Linked DNA regions of Homo sapiens. The protein of the gene in region 2 interacts with the protein of the main gene of each other region in a pairwise test. Each region holds a gene or a part of one and is shown on either strand. Other genes may lie near its edges.

Region 1 (3,500 bases), on a different chromosome or scaffold from region 2:
AACAGAAAACAGTACCTACTTAGACGGACCAAAGCTGGAGACAGTAAATAAGACCCTCTGTTATCTTGACAGGGATCAGGTGCAGGATCATTCCATGACTATGAAATCAGCTGTTGCTGCTTTAGCAGCGTCCATGATTTCTCCTGTTGCCAAGCTTGGCGTATCTCTGAAACATCTACTTTGTTTGGTAGACAATTCATTTTTGAATTGTGAAGGAGCCAGTTGAACTCATGTTAGAGAATATGTGTCTATTTACCAAACTGCCTCTTCAAGGTCAGTTTCAAATTTCTTTTTTTCTTTTTTTTTTTTTATCAGAAGAAATTGACTTATGCAAGAAAGAGACAAAAGTATAAAGCGGACAAGAGAGGTACCTCAATGACAGAGAAGTGTATTGGCTTATCTCACTGGAAATGTACTGGACATGTAGAAATCTGTATACACTAGAGGGAAAAACAATAGGACAGAAAAAGGAAATTGGGGAAAGAAAAATAAAAACACCAAAGTTCTTGAAAGAACACCTTAAAAGAAAAGAATATCAAATTCAGGAAAGATTATAAAAACTTTGGTTAATTTAATGAGATATAAGCATTTTGAGCAATGGCATTTATTATGTACTTATTTTAATTTTCTTTTTCCGTAATTCTGAGTTTGTACAAATGTAATACTTTCTTTCATTTGTATTTCACTTTTTAATTTAATCAGCTCCTCCTTAAGAGTGCTTTGTTTTTTGCCTCTTATTATTAGTAAAATCTTTTACTTTCTGTATTTTTGCTTAACTTTTCCCCATCCTAGTAGCTTTCTCTATTTTTCAGTTATTAGTGCTAGCATTTATTTTTCTTAGAGAATCAAAGGCTTAAAAAATTCACTCATTTATTTTTTAAAATTACAGTATAATATACATTTTTACTGTTAAAATAGTGAATGAACATCTTAATATGTAGCATTTCTATATTTCTACCTAATCCTTATTACTCTGAAATAATTTTAGAATGGTTTATAAAAATAATTATTGGACAATATTGCTGGCTTCATAATTCCTGATTACTGAGAACAAGAACTACAGTCCAAATCTCAAAATAAAAGTGTGTCTCCAGGAGGCACTGATGTTTTCACAAAAGTAAGAGGTATTTAGGGTTTCTCCTACGTTGGGTTCCTGCAAAAACAGGCCCTGAGATGTAGATTTATTGGGGCATCAAGTTTATTGGGTTGTGCTCTCAGGTTCAACCTATTAAGGAAAGAAGAAAGCAGGATTGGGCGGGCAAAGGGAGAAGTTGAACTGTGATGCAATTGCCACAGAGACCTCAGCTGACACCATTAGGAGCTTTAGGGCTGGGATGGCCATGCAGCCATATCCCAAATTGAGGCAAGAGGGCTCAGCCTTTACATCTCTTTATGGACCAGTCATTAGATGTAAGACATTGGATGCAAGCCTGCTCCCAGGATGGGGTATAACCTTGAGTTGGGTGGATCTCTTTGGTCAAGGGCAATTCCTAGAGAGGGATGCAGCTAAGCACTGTCAACCAATAGCCCCAGCAGCTGGAGGAATCAGTGCTTCATTCTTGAAGGACTTTGGAGGGAGCTGTCTGGGTGGAAAACCACAGCATCCACTACAGTAGCTTTTTTTTTTTTTTTTTTTTTGAGACGGAGTCTTGCTCTGTCACCAGGCTGGAGTGCAGTGGCACGATCTCAGCTCACTGCAACCTCTGCTTCAGGGGTTCAAGCTATTCTGCCTCAGCCTCCCAAGTAACTGGGACTACGGGTGCGTGTCACCACACCCGGCTAATTTTTTTTGTATTTTTAGTAGAGATGGGCTTTCACCATGTTGGCCAGGATGGTCTTGATCTCCTGACCTTGTGATCTGCCCACCTCTGCGTCCCAAAGTTCTGGGATTACAGGCGTGAGCCACCACGCCCAGCTTACAGTAGCTTTTGAACAATCATGTTAAATCAGACATAGATAATGTTCTAATCCAACTCCCTCATTTTAAAGATGAAATTTGAAGCTCAGAGACTATCCTAAACATATATACCTGGTCAGTAGCCACCAGACCCTTGGTCTCAATGCTTCATGTTTATATTTGCTGATTAGACCAACCTGTATGAAGCACAAGCTTTATCCAGTGAGTGTTTTCTTTTCCTTTCCGCTCCTTGGCATCTGAAAAATTTTTTCTTTTTTTAATCCACTAGACAGGAAAAAATAAAAACCCGTAAACATCATTTGTTATATAATGAAATGTATAGCTTCTTTTGTTTCTCATAAACTGTCAGTAAGTTCTGCAATTGGTAGTTAATTAAAATTTTTTAAATTGCAGTAATCTGAGACAACTATACTTTTTAATTTGCCTAGCATGATGACTTTAATGACCAAAAAGTTATATAGGTTAAATTTTATGTTCTTAAAATCATGAAGTATGTTAGATTGGTGAAGGACATTACAAGTACATTACATTTGTTCAAACTTTCTCCAAATCCCCTTCCAAAATTTTGCCTCTGACCTCAAGACTTTTAAAAATTTTTTGACATCTTGTCTACTTTCATATTTCTAAATTTTGCCATTCCTTCACTTGTTACTTTCTTATTTTATTTCTTGGCTATTTTTCCTTTCTTTAACTATGTATAATACCTTCTTATAGATTTATGATGTAGCATTCACCATTTTCCAGTAAGATGTTTAACCTTTTTCAGTGTTTTTATTTTTAATTTTTTCGTAGTTAATTTTAAATTTTATTCTCAATAGATTATGATTGAATTTTATAATTTTTCTCTCCCAGCTTCTCTTTTGCTTTATTTTTCTTTTCTACCACAGTTCTTTCTCCTGTACAGCTTGAGCGTTAGCATAATCTGAAGGGAATCGTGGGATTTTGGGGAAGATTTGGGTTTGTGTAGAAAAATATGAGGTACTTCTTGAGTAAAAACTATACTTTTTCTAATTTTCATTCAACTCCTCTTTCTATTTTAATTTGTTGGCCTAAAGCTTGAGGATAGCACCCAGCTTCCAAGGTCTATTGTGAGAAAGGAAGTTTTATGATGTTTAATATTGCCGTGAGTGAGAATGTTCTGGGAACTGTTGTAGTTGATGACTTTTCCCTTTCTATTCCAGGATTATGACATCTTTATGGCCTAATAATAAATCTCATAAAGTCGAAGGACAAATGAAATGGTAGGAAATGCCAGATAGGAGAGAAGAAAATTTGGATAGATCATGGCCGTCCTCCTAGACACATCAGTTTAAAGTGGTTTATTACTTAGCCACAAGAAAAAAACTATACTCAAAACAAAACTTGTATATGTAGTGTGCTTTTATGTGTATTAGGGGAGGTGGAGATATGTGTGGGTGTGGATTGCAATAGGAGAATGGCAGAGGAGTTCTCTACCATACCTACCATTCACTTAGGAATCTAACAAGTGTTTAAAACCAAATAATTTGGGCCAGGTGTGGTGGCACACCCCTGTAATCTCAGCACTTTGGGAGGCCTATGCAGGCAGATTGCTTAAGCCCAG
Region 2 (2,485 bases):
TTCTCACATTTGACTGACTAGCTCCTATGACTGTCACCCTTTTGCAATATCTTCAAAGACCATTCCTACTTGGTCCGCGTGTGTCATTAATTACAGGAGCAGGCCCAGTGGGTAGGGTTGCACTGGCTCTCAGTGACCAACAGCTGCTGTGAAGTTTTACCAAATGAAAATGTGAAACTCAGACTGAGTCCACATATGTAAATTGTTTTGCCTAAATTGAAAAGTAAGTTGGAATCCATGCAAGTAATCCATATTAAAATTCGGTTATCTGAACATGCCCTTTATTCTCTGATGCAGTGTTATGCAACAGACACAGCCTCAGTGTTTATGAATTCCTCCCCTCCCAAATGTTAGAATTATGGATTTTGATGAGAATCTCAACTTTACACAATATTGGCCTTGCCAAAGTTGGGCCAGTGATTCTCAATCACTTTTCCTAGATGATGTCTTTTGATGTCACCGTTAGCTCCCTTTGTCAATATCCCTCGATGTCTCCCAAATGTGTGTCTTTGCTTCACATTCGGAGTCCTCCACAGCCTCTGGTCTAACCAGCTTTCTAATATGACTAGTTGCTATTTTTTCTCTAGCCAGACTCACTACACTTTTTCTCCAGGTCATTGATCATTTTTTTTGTCCTCTCAAGTTGGGCCACTGTGTCCTTGATGCCCTTTTCCACCTTCTCTACCTACCCAAACCCTACCCGTTGATGTGCACGGCAGGAACCAGGCCTCAGGACCCGTCACATCCTGCGCAGAGACTGCCACAGGGCATTTCGCAGCAGAAGAACAAAACTGTGAAGTCTTAAAATGGAACAACCTTAAGGATTATCTCCTCCAATTACTCAATTTACAAATTTAAAAAATGCTTATTTAGCCTTTTCCCAGCTGCCGCCAAGATGCTCTGCCCTTCTGAGCTGAGGCTGCGTTGGGGTCAGGCCCTCACTGCATCCAGCACTAGCACTACTCCGGGCAGCCCAGCCTTGCACTTGTCCACACCACGGACTCCATCTCAGAGCTCGCCTGCACTGACTCAGCCCTCATTCTGTATAACGCTGAGGGGATCATCACATAGGATAAGGTCAATGTCGTTTCTAAAGCAGCTGGGGTAAATGATGACGGCTTTTGGCCTGGCTTGTCTGCCAAGGCCCTGGCCATCGTCAACTTCGGGAGCCTCCTCTGCAGTGGAGGGGCGGGGTGGGAAGACCTGCTCAGCAGCTGGTGGTGTACCTGCGGGAGGTCCTGCCCTTCTGTCACTGTGGCCTAGGCCGAGAAGAAGAAGGTGGAAGCAAAGAAAGAAGAATCTGGAGTCTGATGATAATATGGGCTTTTTTTTTTTTTTTTTGAGTAAACCTATTTTATAACACGTTCAATAAAAAGCTGAACTCTTAAAAATGCTTATTAAAGAGATTGTCACAAACCTCATAGCTACAATACTGATAAGAGTGATGGATAAAGGGTATGGGACTCCCAATCCAATGTTCTTTATTCTCTGATTCTCAGACTTCCAAGGGCTTTTGCTAAAGGAGCTTTATGAATTATGAAATCCCAAACGTCCCTCTTCACTCCTTTCAGAGAAATTGCAAAATAACATCTTGACTTTCCTTCCACCTCCTTTCTTTTCTTTCTTGGCTCCCAAGCTCCTTTTCCTTCTCCGCGGGCTTTTAGTCACAGCTTCGTGTACAGTTGGTAGAATGGCTTTGGGAAACTCCTATGATGCCTTTGGGCCTCCAGTTTTCTTATCTGAAAAAGGAGTATGTTGAATGGATGATTCCTAATGGCCCTGAACAATTTTTTTGTTGCTGTTGTTTCAAACCTAAGGTCTTGATTTTATGTCTTTCTTTTCCTCTCTGCTCTGTGGACCTATCAGAGCCGTGACAAATTGCTGGTGCTATTAAAATCCACTCTGGCAAACAGTGCTCTGAAATTAAGTCAAAAAGCTCATCAATATAAACAAAGAGTAAACTTAAATACTGAAGAACCCAAAGAAGACACAATAGTGTGGTTGTTGATGGGAGCATTTATTACCTCTGAAGCACACTCCCTGCTAAGTTCCATGTGTCTCAAATTCACACACACACACACACACACACAATGGGTGTTTATTTGGAAAACATGTAAAGTGAGAAAGTTTTATTCTTTAGCTCTAAAGCTTTTCATGTTGTCCTATAATTATAATAAAGTTTACAGTCTTTGAATGCCTGATTTGAAACAGGCAAGGCACTGTGCTGAACACTTTCCATATGATTTAATCATCGTTAGTAACATGAAGAGTTATGTGACTCTTCCCTATTTTACAAATGAAGAAACTGTGGCTTAATGAGTTTGAGTAGCTCAACCGAGGTCACTCACATAGTTACTGGTAGGTTTGAAATTAGGCAGTGTGATTGATTTCAGGGCCCATGCTCCTTTGTGGAATCTCCAAATATACTGCAATAATACATCTCTTAGGAGGATAGCTGATGGGGAGTGATAAAGTGTGCAGCTGG
Region 3 (3,500 bases), on a different chromosome or scaffold from region 2:
TTTTTGTGAGTTGAGCTGTGGTAAATAACATCACATTTTAGCACGAGGGTTGCCACCTATTAATTCAAACAAGCCAGAGGTCATAGATCTACTTGGTGACTGGTGGAGCTGTGTGGATCTGGTAACTTGGAAGCCATTGTTCACTGCCTCTGCTGATTTGTTGCCACATTTTTCTCATTCATTCTGGACATTGCAGTGGAGGGAGCCACCTCTACTTTTGACTCCTGTCCTTCAGTTTCTCCATCTGCTCATGCGCCCTCTTAACCATGTGGCATGCCACTTTCGTGGTGGCCTCCCCTTTTTATTTGCTGTGGATGACCAGGGCCATCATCCTTTATTCTCTGATGTGGAAACTATTCAAGGGAAGTGAGCAAACTGGGCCAATGGTAGGATGTCATTGCAGAGTGCCAGGATATCCTGATGCTTTGAAGGAAAACCACTGGAGAACTTGGATGCTTTATCATGGTTTTGCCAAAAATATAGCTATTGAGTGGCAGTCACTGTGCTAGGGAATGGCCATCACCTTTTTGTTAGGAAATAATGTTTTATATGCATTTTCAATTGAAGCAAACATACCAAATGGAAGATAATTATATAAATTCACTTATATGATCAACATTTGTAATATCCTGTGCCTTGCTTGGTAAATGGCAAATAAAGATCTCTGGTGCACATTTAAAAGAATGCTCTTTTTTTTTGGGCTCTCTGAAGGTTGACCTGCTCTTTCTTTCTGAACTGCAAGTGCTACATGATATTTCAAGCTTGGTAAGTAGGCTGCTCTAATTTTTTAATTCCATTTATTTTGGTTTCTAGAGAATCCTTGAATAATAGTAAAGGCAGTTGAAAAGTTTGATTAAGTATGCCCTAGATTTATGATCCCATGAAAATTGAAAAATTAGTGGCAATATTGGGAATTTTGAACACATCCATGTTATAGTCAAATTATTTTGCATTTCTGCTTTTTAGGGAGAGACAACATATCTTCCAAGAACACAAGCCTGGGCGTAAGAACACCCTGGCCATAGTCCTAACTTGGCTGTTGATTTCTTGTGAGACTTAATTCCTATCTATATCTTTGGGCCTAAAATAGAAATAATAGTTTGGACTAATAATGCTGTCAGTCAAGTCAAGAAGGGACGAAATCCGTCTGAAGGGTATTTTTTTGGTGAATGATTTTTTAAAAATCATCCTTGTTACTGAAATAGAAATTCTTATCTGTTTGCTACCTTCTGAAGTTGTTTTCCAAACTTTTTCAACAGGTGTTGGTTCGGGGAGTCTGGAAGTGTAGTGCATTCCTGGGATCAAACTGGTCCAGCCATCTGTTCTTTCATACGTTGGCCCATACCTGAGTTTTTAAAACTGAGGAATTTTGTTGAAAGCTTTTATTAAATATCCAAGGAGTCTTGTACTGCTCCTAAACATGAGATTCGTGTTGGATTTATCAGAAACGCTTATTCAAACCAGTTTCTTTTGCCACCATTTTAGACTATTTGCATGTTGTGGTACACTGGTATGGTTTAGTTTAGCCTAGTTTAGTTAGGCATAAAACTTTAACTGGCTGTGTTTGACGTCTTTCATCTTACTTTATCCGCTACCTTTTTTTGTTTGTTTGTTCTCCTAAGCTGTCTCGTCATAAGCATCTAGCCAAGGATCATTCTCCTGATTTATATTCACTGGAGCTGGCAGGTTTGGATGAAATTGGGAAGCGTTATGGGGAAGACTCTGAACAATTCAGAGATGCTTCTAAGATCCTTGTTGACGCTCTGCAAAAGGTAAATATCAATGCGACATGAGAGGTTGGAGTATGACCATTTCACTTTTAGCCTCTTAATAGAAAAATCTGCTGTTTCAAACACTGTTGATTGAACTCTTATTTGCCTTCTTTGGGGCTCCTCTAATTATACTGGCCAAGGATGGAGTAGGGTCAAAAATGTATATTGATATATTTCTTCCTAATGCTAGAAAGAACAGCATTAGGAAAAGTTATCTCACACAAAGCTTTACAAAATTATTGTGGTAAAATATATATAACATAAAATTACCACTTTAACCATTTTTAATTGTACAGTTCAGTGGTATTAAGTGCAAGTACGTTCACATGTTGTACAACCATCACCATCTTCTATTTCTAGAACTTTTTCTTCTTCCCCAACTGAAACTCTGTACTCCTTAAACACTATGAGATAACTGAAGTAGAACACCCAGCACAGTACCAGACAGTAGATGCATAATAAATGCTAGTTCCCCTCTGCCCTTGAAGTTCTTCACCTGCATCCTTTCAGTGAGGCTTCATATTTTAATCTTTATAGATGTTTGTGATTAACCAGAGACCACTTAGGAAGATTTCATTTCTCTTTCCAACTTCCCTTCCTCCAATTTATATGCTGACAAATTCAGTCTCTTCTTAAAGTAATTTTAGTCTAAACATTTGAATATATGTTAAAGCTTAACACTTTTCTGTATAGTTGAGCAAAATCAAAACCTTTAAGACTTGCTTATTGTAAGATGTAGTATATTTCATGAGCCAGGAGGTAAGTGTACATTGTTCTTGTAGCTGCACAAAAGCTTTAAAAATAATTTTAATAAGTATGTATTTGACTCACTGCATAAAATGATAAGTAGGAGGTAATGCATATGTTAATTAGCCAATGTGGACTTAAGCCATTCCACAATGTGTACATATTTCAAAACAATATGTTGATGTGATAAATATATATGATTTTAATTTGTTAATTAAAAATGAAAAAAGTACATAGTTGAGATTCCCAATAATGTTAATAACTAACTTTCAGTTTGCAGATGACATGTACAGTCTTTATGGTGGGAATGCAGTGGTAGAGTTAGTCACTGTCAAGTCATTTGACACCTCCCTCATTAGGAAGACAAGGACTATCCTTGAGGCAAAACAAGCGGTGAGTATATTTTGAGATCCTGCTTTAAAACTGTAAAATTAACTTCTTATAAAAAAAAAAAAACCAAGTCCTATATCACCTAAGGGTGACATGAATGAGCAGTCAGTAAATCTGAAAAACAATTTCAGTTAAAACGTAAGCTTCTTGTTCACATACATATGTGTGCTTTGCCAGTGATGATCAGTTCTTTAGGGTTATAATCAGATAATGCAAGAATTTGAATTAGGGATAAAAGTAAATCTGTCCAAGATTATAATTCAAATATCAGTACACACAAGGAGATATCAGAAGTTAATGTGGCGCCAGGTGCAGTGGCGTGCATCTGTAATTGCAGCTTCTCAGGAGGCCAAGGCAGGAGGATTGCTTTAGCTCAGGAGGAGTTTGAGGCCAGTCTGAGGAAACATAGCAAGACCCTGTTTTGAAAACAAAAAGAAGTGAATGTGTGCGGGAGTGGTGTGGTGCCCACATCCTATGGGCTCTGCTTTTCTAGCAGGCACATTGTCTTTGTGGCGTAGTCCCTCACTTACTGAGATCCTCTGTGTGCACCTCTTTATGATTTTGATTTACTTAACAGTTTTTTTGGGTATG
Region 4 (4,265 bases), on a different chromosome or scaffold from region 2:
GGCCTCCCAGAATGCTGGAATTACAAGCGTGAGCCACTGCGCCCGGCCTTTTTTTTTGAGACGGAGTTTCGCTCTTGTTGCCCAGGCTGGAGTGCAGTGATGCGATCTTGGCTCACTGCAACCTCTGCCTCCCGGGTTCAAGCGATTCTTCCTCAGCCTCCCAAGTAACTGGGATTACAGGTGCCCACCACCACTCCCAGCTAATTTTTTTTGTATTGTTAGTAGAGACGGGGTTTCACCATGCTCGTCAGGCTGGTCTCGAACTCCTGTCCTCAGGTGATCTGCCCCCCTTGGCCTCCCAAAGTGCTGGGATAGCGGGGGGCGGCTCACATCTGTAATCCCAGCATGGTCAACATGGTGAAACCCTGTCTCTACTAAAAAATAAAAAAATTAGCCAGGCATGATGGTGCACACCTGTACTCCCAGCTACTTGGGAGGTTGCGGCAGGATAATCGCTTGAACCCGGGAGGCGGAGGTTGCAGTGAGACGAGATCAGCCACTGCACTCCAGCCTGGGCAACAGAGCCAGACCCTATCTCAAAAAAAAAAAAAAAAAAAAAAAAAAAAAAAGAACATAATGTCAGGTAGTGAGGCTGCTGTGGAAAACACTCAACAAGAGGTAAAGAGTAAAGGAGGTCAGGTTAGGAGCGGGGAAGGCAGTTTACCCTGAAGGGACACAGAAGACCTGACGAAGGTGACATTGGAGCCATGGAGGCCCACGGAGAGGGGCGGGGCAGGGGGGGAGAGCCGGGGCAGAGGGGAGAGCTGGGGCCAAGGCCCTGAGGCAGGAACGGGTTCCCTGTGTTGGGAACAGCAGGAGGGCCTGAACAGCCAGAGTGGAGTGGGAGGAAAGAGGGGTAGAAGGTGACATCAGGGACATAAATGGGTGCAGGGGATCACGAAGGGGTCCTCCTCCTGAAACAGCACCTCCAGATTCCCGGGGCTGCTTCTCTCCAGGGTGCCCCGCCTGCTTGGGTGAGGTCCGGATTGTAGCTGTAGTCCTAGCCTGACGGCCCCCCACCCTCCTCTAATGCCTACTTGGGGTCCCTGCACATTGACCCCCAGGCCTGGATATCAGGGCTCAGGGGAGATAACTTGGAGGTTCGCCCTCTGGAACTCCTGAGGATGACCTCCATCATTTGAAGTCGGAAACCCGGCCCCCAAACTGCGCTCTAAGTCCTCCTGTGACTCTGGGGGTGACCTTTCCAGACTCCCTGGGAAGGTGGGGGGGGGGGGGTGGTCCTCAGAGCCCCAGCGGGGTCGGAGACACACAGACCACCCTCCCCGTTCCCAGAAGTCGCGGTCCCTGCGCCACCCGGAGAGGCCGGTGCAGCGGGCGCCTCCCGGGCCGCTGCGGCAAAGGCTGGGCGGCCGCGCCTTCCCCCCGCGGTGATTCATCCCGCCCCCTCCCTCTCCTCCCTCGTCCCTCCCTAGGCCGCCGCCGCCGCCGCCGCCGCCGCCGCTGCAGTGCGCAGGAGACCGCGGTCCGCGCCCGAGCGCGCCCGAGCCGGAGCGGGACCGGGGTCGGTGCACCTAGCGGATGTGCCCGGCTGCGCGCGCCAGCGCAGCAGCCCGAGCAGCGGCCGCCGCCCGCGCGGCGGGGATGCCCGGACGCCGGGCCCCGGGGCTGGGCCCCCGGCGGTAACCGGAGCGGGGGGGCCGCGCCCCCCCTCCTCCCCCCTCGCCGGTCCCAGAGCCGCAGCTGCTGCGCCCGCGCGCTCCCGGGGACATTCTAACCGCCGCCAGGTCCCGCCGCCTCTCGCCCCGCTATTAATACCGGCGGCCCGGGAGGGGGGCGCAGCACGCGCCGCGCAGCCATGGGGAGGCTGCTGGCCTTAGTGGTCGGCGCGGCACTGGGTGAGTGCGCGGGGGGCGCGCGCGGCCGGGGGGCACCGCGGGGGCACTGGCGGGGCGGCGGGAGTGGCGCTCGGGACACGGGGCAGCCGCGCGAGGGCCACCCCCGGCCCATCCCCGGGCCCCGCCAAGTCAGCTTCAGAAGTTGTGCGCGCGGGAGCCGGGCTTGGGGAGGGCAGTGGAGGTGAGGGTGGGCTCCAGCGGGTGGGGGCCGGGCTGGCACAGCCTGGCGGCTGCAGGCGCCCAGCCGGGGGCGAGGAAACGCGGAGTCAGCTGCTCCCGGAGCCCCGCAGGCTGCAATGTGACACCCACAGCCGCGGGAGGGGGGTGGGGGGAAGGCGGCGCCCGGAGACTGGGACGGGAAAGACGGAGGGACAGGGAGAGATGAAGACGGGAGGAAGGGGGCGAGAGACAGAGAAGGACTCGGAGCGCACCGGAGTGGTCCGCTGGGATGCTGGGGACATGGGGGTCAAGGGGGAGACGGAGACAGAGAGAGGGGTATTGGAGAGAGAGAGAGAGAGAGAGAGTTAAGAGACTGAGCGCGATGGAGAAAGGGAAACTTGAGAAAGGCAGAAGGAGATGGAGAGAAGAGAGAGGGAGATGCGGGTGCCCGTGAACACCGGGAGAGAATCTTGCATGGAGTTTGAAAAGGGATAGACGTAGAAAGGTGGAAAGAGATTAGGAGAGGTCTCCTTCTGAGCCCAGAGAGTGGACAAAAAGTGGAGGGACCTTCAGAGAGACCCCTGAGAGGGACAAAGATAGGAGGGACTGAGACAGAGGCCCTCAGGGAGTCTGAAAGGGACCGCAGGGGAGGCGGATGGATGAGAAGTCCTGAGGATCAGGAAACAAGGACAGCACAGGGCTGCAGCAGAAGAGACACAGCGTTAGCTACAGAGTGCTGGGAGGCAGAAAGGAGGTGCCAGGTAAGAGTGTGAAGGAATTCTAAGACTGGAATTCAGTGGGCTGCAAAAGCCCTGGGGCAGGAGAGAGCTCAGGAAAGCTTTGAGTAGTGGATGGGGTTGGGGTGGGAAGAGCTCTAGAGGCGAGGAGCCTGGGGAAGAGGGGATGATGGAGGCAGGAGAGGCCGGGGAGGGGATGGCTCACACAGGGGCTTGTGGGCTGTGGAGAGGGGCTGAGTGTGGGTCAGCCCCGGTTTCAGTGCCCACCTCCCCACAATCCCCCACCCCCAGACCTTTTCTCCCAACCCATTTCTCCTGGAGCTAGCTGGTTTTACAATTTAATGGTGAAAATGACTGCCACCTTAAACTTCTAACTTAGCTGGAATTCTCATTCTACCACCTAGATGCTTGGGTTCCTCCAGCAAGGGACTTTCTGAGGAAGGGGCACTCGGGTAGCATAAAGTCTGAGTTACCGGCAACGTTGACAGTCCCACTTATGGGGCCTCCCATGTACAAGGCCCTACCTAATGTATGAAAATGGGCCCAGCCATTGCTGGAAGCAAAGGACCATTTCTTTCAACAAGAGAGAGGGAAACTGAGACTCAGGGATGAATGACTTGCTGAGGTCACGCAGTGAGTGACAGGGCTCAGCCTAGCATCCAGTCCTGTCTGCTGGTAATCATTGAGGGGGGAACAGATGGTTTGTGAGGGGTCTGGCATTGCTTAGGGCAATGGGTGCCTCTGCCTGACCTGAGCCTGCTGTCCCCACAGTGTCCTCAGCCTGCGGGGGCTGCGTGGAGGTGGACTCGGAGACCGAGGCCGTGTATGGGATGACCTTCAAAATTCTTTGCATCTCCTGCAAGCGCCGCAGCGAGACCAACGCTGAGACCTTCACCGAGTGGACCTTCCGCCAGAAGGGCACTGAGGAGTTTGTCAAGGTGTGCGGGTGCCGGGAACGGGCATGGGAGGGCAGGGGTCCACGAGTGGGAGGCGGTGGGGCTGGATCTCAGGGAGGGGGCTTATTTGTTTAATAATATGCTGTGATTGCTGACCTGGATTCAGATTCTGGCTCCACCAGTGGCCAGCTGGTGACCTTGGCCAAGTCAGTGAGCCTCTCTGAAAGTCAGTTTCCTCCTCGGTAAAGACGGGGTGGCGGTGGTCTCTAGCCCATAGGTTTGTGTGAGGACTGAATGCATTGACGCACCTGGCACACGGTTGGCATGAAATAAATGTCAGTGGACTTATTTGGCACCAGCAAACAATGTCTCTGATAGTCATTACGGAGGGAAGACAGAACTGTTTTTTTTAACCTCCTTTAAACTATGTGTGTATTTTGCATTATATATCGGTGAGGGAACCATAAAATTCTGTGACGTGCTGGAGAGTTGGGGTCTCCAGCTGCTGGAATCAGGCTGCCCTGTCTCTGCTGGAGGAGTGTGTCTGGTGGCTGGGAAAGAACGGCAGAGAATGATAGCCTAGAGGCCAGATGGGGCTTGGGAGGATGACTGAGGAA
Region 5 (3,934 bases), on a different chromosome or scaffold from region 2:
CAGGACTCTGTGTGTGTGTGTGTGTGTTGGGGTGTGTGTGTATATGTCTGTGTGTTTGTGTGTGTGTCGGGGTCCAGGTCTCTGTGTGTGTGTGTGTGTGTCGGGATGTGTGTGTGTGTATGTCTGGGTCTAGGTCTCTGTGTGTGTGTGTCTGGGTCCAGGACTCTGTGTGTGTGTGTGTGTGTGTGTGTGTTGGGGTGTGTGTGTATATGTCTGTGTGTTTGTGTGTGTGTCTGCATCCAGGTCTCTCTCTGTGTGTGTGTGTCTGGGTCCAGGTCTCTGTGTGTGTATGTGTGTGTGTGTGTGTTGGGGGGTGTGTGTATATGTCTGTGTGTTTGTGTGTGTGTCTGGGTCTAGGTCTCTGTGTGTGTGTGTGTGTGTCGGGATGTGTGTGTGTGTATGTCTGGGTCTAGGTCTCTGTGTGTGTGTGTCTGGGTCCAGGCCTCTGTGTGTGTGTGTGTGTGTGTCTATGTGTGTGACTCTGTGTCCATCTCTCTGTCAGTGTCTCTGCATCTCTGTGTTCCTGTGACTGAACCTGGCTCCACCCAGCCTCCAGTGACTATCTGAGATGGGAACCCCGGGCTGAAAAGGGAGATCCAGCCGTGTTCTAGAAGGAGTACCCTAGGTCTGGAGCCTGTAACTTTCTGGCTTTGCTGGTTGGAACCCTGAGGCCTCCAGGGGAAGAAGGGTCCTGTCCACCTGCCCCGGGGCACAGCCATTACCTTGTGAAGCCTCAAGGAGGCCCCGGCCAGCATAGGCCAGGGCCCCACTCAGCACCAGAGAGTAGAGGCCCAGCTCAGCCGCCGGCAATGCTGTCTTGATGCCCATAGCCTGGACAGGGCTGGGGAGACAGGTTGGGTGAGGGAATTACAGTCTCCAGCCAAGCCTAGCCCCACCTCATGGTCCCACCACCCCAGTGGGGACCCACTCTGAAGAGAGATTGCCCCTCCAGCCCCTTGGGGACCTTGTACCATCACTCTGCCTGCCCCTGTGCCCCCCACAGTTCACAGGCCACCGAACACCAGTGCCCCATCCCAGCTGCTGCTCTTGCCCCCACCCCACCCATCAAGGCTCTTGCCCGCAGAGCCCTCACTCGCAGCCTGCCTCCCTCACCTTCATTTACATCTTCATACCTTCCAGAGGCACCGGCCCCACCCTCTGCCAAAACCGCTCCTGCCAAGGCCCCCATGACCTGCGTGCGGAGAAACCCCACCTCTATCACTACAGTCAGGTTTCTGCCTGCAGGGTCCCCACCTCGATCAGTGAGTCTCCCTTAGCTCCTCACAAAGCCCCAGCTTCTCTAAGACCCTTTCTCTGACTCCCACTCCCCTCCCTGAGATCCCATGACCACCCCAGGTGCTGCCCCTAGAGCCAAGCCTCCATCCTCGCATTAAGCCTCCAGCCTGTCACTGACCCCCATTCCCCCAACAAGTCCCTGAGCTCCAGCCTGTCACATCCCAGTCCCTGCCTGTGTCCGTGACCACACTGCCCCACTCTCTCAGCGCTCTGTGTATTCAGGCCCTGGGCACCAGCTGGAGGCTGTGCTATTTGAGGAGGTGCCCAGGAGTAGCGGATGTGGGGCCAGGCGGGGCCAGGCGGGGCCAGGGAGGGCACTGGCTGCTGTCCAAGGTGCTGACCAGAATCAGGCCCCGGCTGAGTCTCACCACTCCCTCCAGCGGGGGCCTAGCTTGTCCCCTGGAGAACTGCTGGGCCGTACTACGGCTCAGCTAGCACCTTTACCCTTCCTATCCCGCTTCAGCCTGGCTCAGGGGCTTCCCAAGGACTCCATGGATACAGACATAGGACCCAAATTAAAGGGAGGAAGCAGGGAACATGTCCAGGCAACTCTTGGGCTGACGGGGCCAAGAGGTGGCTGATGTGGCCCTTTTGCCCACCCTTGATCCTCCCCTAAATCTTCATCCCCAGCCCTGTAGCCATCTCCCCTGGGCCCCCCAGCAGCCGACGGTCTCCTCGTACAGATGGAGGGGTCATGGGCCAGATAGGGGCAGGGACCTGTCAAGGTCACATGGCAGACCTGGGACAGACTTCTGCCTGCCTCCCTTCAGGATTGGGTTTCTCAGTGACCCCCCTCTGGAATCTGGGGTAAGAGAAGACCACCACTGCCCCTGCCCACAGCAGAGGCTGCCAGCCTGATGGCTGTGCTGTCGGCCTGAGGGTGGAGGCACCTCCTCATCAGTTGGGTGGGGGTGGAGAGGCCCTGGGGATCAGGTTAATGGAGCAGGAGCTTGAAACCGGAGCATGGTGAAGAGCCCGTGAAATAGCTTTGTCAGCTGCCTCCCACTCGCCACTTTCCAATTTTAGCTCCCCATGGCCGGTGCGGGGTGTCCCCAGTGAGGCCTCTGCAAGGAGCTGGCCCCCAGCCTGGGGCCTCTCCTGATAGACCCCCAGACCAGGGCTGGCCTGTGGACACGGGGGCATACCCTTTCCCCTGGTCCTGCCTGCCCCAGATGCCCCGGGGGTAAAGCCCCTTTTGGGGCCTGTGATTTGGGATGAGGGCCTGGGGTGTGCCCCACAAGTCTCAAGAGCCCCAGAGTAGCTGCATCCCCAGCTGGCACTGACCTTGAGGAGGCCGCAAGGGACCCTGGCACACTGCCCACCTCAGGCTCTGGGGTCCGGCTTCCAACTGTCCGTCCGTGCGACCGGCTGAGCTCTGGGGCCACGGTGGGGTGTGTCCAGCCCTGGGGTCCCCACCCCCTTGAGGTTATGAGCGGTGAGTGGTGACAGCGGGAGGAGGAGGGGGAGGAGGAGGTGGCCTTCCTGGAGCGGAGCTGAGCAGAGTGGAGCAGAGCCGAGTGCTGCAGAGCTGCTGGCCACAGGGAGCCGCAGGGAGGATCCTTGAAGGGGGGCGGGTGCTGGGTGGGGGGAGGGTGTCCAGTAGCATAGGCTCAGACAGGGACACCTGGGCCTCTCTTCAGCCTGCCTCCCCTGGCTCCTAGAGAGCCTGTGCCTCTCTCTCACTGCTACCCAGGACTTCCCTCTTCCAGGAAGACTCCTGGTGGTCCCACCAGCCTCTCCAGGCTTGTAAGCCCTGCCCCCACCACAGACACACACAGTCACAACATGCAAACACTTTCATGCTTGGGCTCCAGGGACTCCAGCTCCTACCTTTACATATGACCTCCTAAGGGCTATCCCAGGGCAGACTTGTCTCGCCCCATGACCTGGTCCTTTTCATTATGCCGTGAGTCCTGGCTGGCCATGCATCAGTGCCTGAGGGAGGGCTGACTTGCCTGATGGGACTGGAACTGGCATGGGACATGTGGCTGAGAGGGATCCCCATAAGTCAGCCCTGTCCCATAGGGAGTGTCCTGGATGGAGGGGTGCTAGCAGGGTCACTTGGCAAGGCTTGTGGGTACTTGGAATGGCTGGTATCCTCTCGGTGGCAGAGTGGAGGCAGACAGGAAGACAGGTGTGTTCCTAACCAACTGGGAGTCCTGGTAGGACAGGGCCCTCATTCTGGAAGGGAGCATCCAAGGCCTCAGCCCTGGATACCTGAGGGGAGGGGCATCCTGAAGGTGCCCCTGAGATTAAGAACCTCTGACAGTGCCCCTTCGGTTGAGGCCAAGTCTCGGGCAGCTGTATGTGTCTGTGCTATCTAGGGGGACCTGTTCACCTGTGTGCTTGTGGGGAGGCTCTCGGGGGTAGAAGGAGCTTTGTGGCTGTGATCAGTCACAGGACAGCTCCTGGAGCCCCTGCTGATCCTATGACCCCAGCTTCAGGCTCAGTTGAGGAGGCAGGAGGGAGGTGCTGCTCCCCACCCATCAGGGCCCAGGAAGGGGAGAGACTGCACTTAGGCAGGGAGCTGCCTCCCGAGCACATAGACACGCTGGCCTGGAGAACAGCAAGGAGACGCCCAACCTACACACTCCACACAGGACACAGAGGCCCGTGTCTGTGGTCCCCGACCCTGAGA
Region 6 (2,683 bases), on a different chromosome or scaffold from region 2:
CCTGCAGGTGAGGCCAGCTCTCAGGACATGACTGCACAGGTGACCAGCCCATCGGGCAAGGTGGAAGCCGCAGAGATCGTCGAGGGCGAGGACAGCGCCTACAGCGTGCGCTTTGTGCCCCAGGAAATGGGGCCCCATACGGTCGCTGTCAAGTACCGTGGCCAGCACGTGCCCGGCAGCCCCTTTCAGTTCACTGTGGGGCCGCTGGGTGAAGGTGGTGCCCACAAGGTGCGGGCCGGAGGCACAGGGCTGGAGCGAGGTGTGGCCGGCGTGCCAGGTAAGGGGCAGGTGGCCAGGAGTGGGGATGAAGTCAGGGCAGCCAGTGTGAGGGGCGATGATGCTGAAGTCCACTACCTTGCCTGTCCCCAGCCGAGTTCAGCATCTGGACCCGGGAGGCTGGCGCTGGGGGCCTGTCCATTGCTGTGGAGGGTCCTAGCAAAGCGGAGATTGCATTTGAGGATCGCAAAGATGGCTCCTGCGGCGTCTCCTATGTCGTCCAGGAACCAGGTGGGCGTCCACACTGGCAGTGGGGCTGGGCCTGCCTGACCTTCCAGACTGGGTTTCTGCCCACTGGCCAGGCAGGAGATGCTTGGGGCCACAGAACTCCCCTCCCCGGAGCCCCCTGCTCTTCCTCTGCCCCGTCTCCCTCTACCCCACACCCTCAGAAACATGTGTCTGCCTCCAGATCTGAGCGCTGACCACAGAGCCTTTCCTGGGATAAGGCCAGGGTGGGGAGGCTCCCGCCCTGCCAACCTCCATCCCGGAACCTGTGCTGACTGGTCTCTCTCCCCAGGTGACTATGAGGTCTCCATCAAGTTCAATGATGAGCACATCCCAGACAGCCCCTTTGTGGTGCCTGTGGCCTCCCTCTCGGATGACGCTCGCCGTCTCACTGTCACCAGCCTCCAGGTTTGTGCCCAGGGTGGGGGTGGAGGGTTTCTGCTATCTGAGAGATGGGCAGGAGTTGAGGACAGCAGGTCCATGGGGCCAGGGATTTAGCAGTGACCTTGGAAGGGCCAGTTAGGAGTCCCTTCTCATAAGGCACGAGGCAGGGCCCTTGGGGACGGTGGGCTCCCACCCTGGGGGCTTGCCCGTGCACTCAGGCATGCCACGCCTCGTTCTGCCTTTCTCAGGGTGTGTCTGCCTGTCCTACTGCCACCTGCCATTTCTTGTTACAGTTTGTTCCACCTTCTGTTGTAAGAATGCTAGATGACAACATTTATAAGAATGAGAGCATAAAATCTATACAAACTAAGAGTAAACCAGTTTGCACAGAGGGTGTGAGAGGCTCCTCTAAAGGGAATGCCTATGGGCTGCAGAGCCTGGGCTGCATCCTCTTCAGGCCGCTGGGGGCCTGGCTTGCTTTCTCTTGCTGCTGACTTCTAGAGATGTGGTGTGTTCCTTTCATTCTGTCACAGCGGACATGTGCAAGGAAGGCTTTCAGCAAGTCACACTGAAACATGCAAACCAGGGGGCCAGGTGTCCAGGGGACACATTGTAAAGGAGCTTCTGCATAAGGCGCACAGAATGGGCTTCACCCCACCTCCTTCTCCCACGCGCCTCCTGGCTGCCCCTCAGGGTGGTCACATTGGCCCATCCAGAGTCCTTGTGCATCTCCTCCTCCCACTCCTGAACTGGGCTCCCCGATGCAGGCTCCAATCCCTCCCCCAGAGCCCTTCTGTGCTTCTTCTGGTCCTCCCTGTTGGTCCACCTTCTCCAGGAAGCTCTCCCAGGCCAGGCCAGTGAAACTCAGCTTCCTACCTCAGAGCTCTCTGGCACCCCCAGCCCACACAGCCCATCAGGCACTTGCCCTCCGCCCTCAGCCTGCTTCACACAGAGTGGGGCCCTTCCTTCCTCAGCCAGGACAGGGCACATCGTCTGTCATCTCCCACACACCAAGCACAGCTAGGATAGCAGGTGCACACATAGGGTTGCATACCGGACCCTGGCTCCTCCTGCTCCCAGGCTGGGCTGGCAGGCAGGGGCCAGGCTGGGCATGGGGTGGCAGCAGCCTTTGGGCTGGGCTTACAGTGAGCACCGTGTGGGGCTTCAGAGAAGACTGCTCCAGCCCCGGCCTCCCAGGAGTCTGAGCATCCTCCGTGGCCTTTGCAGGAGACGGGGCTCAAGGTGAACCAGCCAGCGTCCTTTGCCGTGCAGCTGAACGGTGCCCGGGGCGTGATTGATGCCCGGGTGCACACACCCTCGGGGGCTGTGGAGGAGTGCTACGTCTCTGAGCTGGACAGTGGTGAGCTGGCCCTGCCCCTGCCAACTCCCTTCCGGGCTGGGGCCTTCTGGGGAGGGGAAGGATGGAGGCTAAGCCACCAACCCTTTATCCACAGACAAGCACACCATCCGCTTCATCCCCCACGAGAATGGCGTCCACTCCATCGATGTCAAGTTCAACGGTGCCCACATCCCTGGAAGTCCCTTCAAGATCCGCGTTGGGGAGCAGAGCCAGGCTGGGGACCCAGGCTTGGTGTCAGCCTACGGTCCTGGGCTCGAGGGAGGCACTACCGGTGAGTGCCTGGAGCTGGGGAACAGGGTGACTTCTGGGGGTGCTTGGCCACTAGTCTGGTGCTGCTTTGCTCCAGAGGTAGGGGCCCTGCTTCCTAAGCCAGGAGTCCCCACAGAGGCTGTCCAGGGAGCTGGGGCCCAGTCCCTCTTGGGCCACAAGCCCTTCCTG

The links.
Region 1: the proteins of ADRA1A (region 2) and GPR37 interact in a two-hybrid assay, tested with the Homo sapiens proteins (one large-scale study listed by BioGRID and IntAct).
Region 3: the proteins of ADRA1A (region 2) and ATP6AP2 interact in a two-hybrid assay, tested with the Homo sapiens proteins (one large-scale study listed by BioGRID and IntAct).
Region 4: the proteins of ADRA1A (region 2) and SCN1B interact in a two-hybrid assay, tested with the Homo sapiens proteins (one large-scale study listed by BioGRID and IntAct).
Region 5: the proteins of ADRA1A (region 2) and HHATL interact in a two-hybrid assay, tested with the Homo sapiens proteins (one large-scale study listed by BioGRID and IntAct).
Region 6: the proteins of ADRA1A (region 2) and FLNC interact in a two-hybrid assay, tested with the Homo sapiens proteins (one study listed by IntAct).

What each region holds. Positions count from the first base shown.
Region 1 is NC_000007.14:124,759,293-124,762,792, reverse strand, and holds part of GPR37 (prosaposin receptor GPR37 precursor), read left to right. Parts: intron 1-3,500.
Region 2 is NC_000008.11:26,770,794-26,773,278, forward strand, and holds part of ADRA1A (alpha-1A adrenergic receptor), read right to left. Parts: intron 1-2,485. UniProt on the Homo sapiens protein: This alpha-adrenergic receptor mediates its action by association with G proteins that activate a phosphatidylinositol-calcium second messenger system. Its effect is mediated by G(q) and G(11) proteins.
Region 3 is NC_000023.11:40,597,970-40,601,469, forward strand, and holds part of ATP6AP2 (renin receptor precursor), read left to right. Parts: intron 1-711; coding exon 712-765; intron 766-1,622; coding exon 1,623-1,772; intron 1,773-2,792; coding exon 2,793-2,912; intron 2,913-3,500. UniProt on the Homo sapiens protein: Multifunctional protein which functions as a renin, prorenin cellular receptor and is involved in the assembly of the lysosomal proton-transporting V-type ATPase (V-ATPase) and the acidification of the endo-lysosomal system.
Region 4 is NC_000019.10:35,029,005-35,033,269, forward strand, and holds the start of SCN1B (sodium channel regulatory subunit beta-1 isoform a precursor), read left to right. Parts: upstream 1-1,465; 5' UTR 1,466-1,816; coding exon 1,817-1,856; intron 1,857-2,266; exon of another isoform or gene 2,267-2,776; intron 2,777-3,523; coding exon 3,524-3,690; intron 3,691-4,265. UniProt on the Homo sapiens protein: Regulatory subunit of multiple voltage-gated sodium (Nav) channels directly mediating the depolarization of excitable membranes.
Region 5 is NC_000003.12:42,699,999-42,703,932, forward strand, and holds the start of HHATL (protein-cysteine N-palmitoyltransferase HHAT-like protein), read right to left. Parts: upstream 2,801-3,934; 5' UTR 2,581-2,800; exon of another isoform or gene 2,543-2,580; intron 1,524-2,542; exon of another isoform or gene 1,469-1,523; intron 1,193-1,468; exon of another isoform or gene 1,190-1,192; coding exon of another isoform or gene 1,134-1,189; exon of another isoform or gene 1,114-1,133; intron 842-1,113; coding exon of another isoform or gene 829-841; coding exon 723-828; intron 1-722.
Region 6 is NC_000007.14:128,854,406-128,857,088, forward strand, and holds part of FLNC (filamin-C), read left to right. Parts: intron 1-7; coding exon 8-277; intron 278-369; coding exon 370-507; intron 508-793; coding exon 794-909; intron 910-2,112; coding exon 2,113-2,245; intron 2,246-2,339; coding exon 2,340-2,516; intron 2,517-2,683.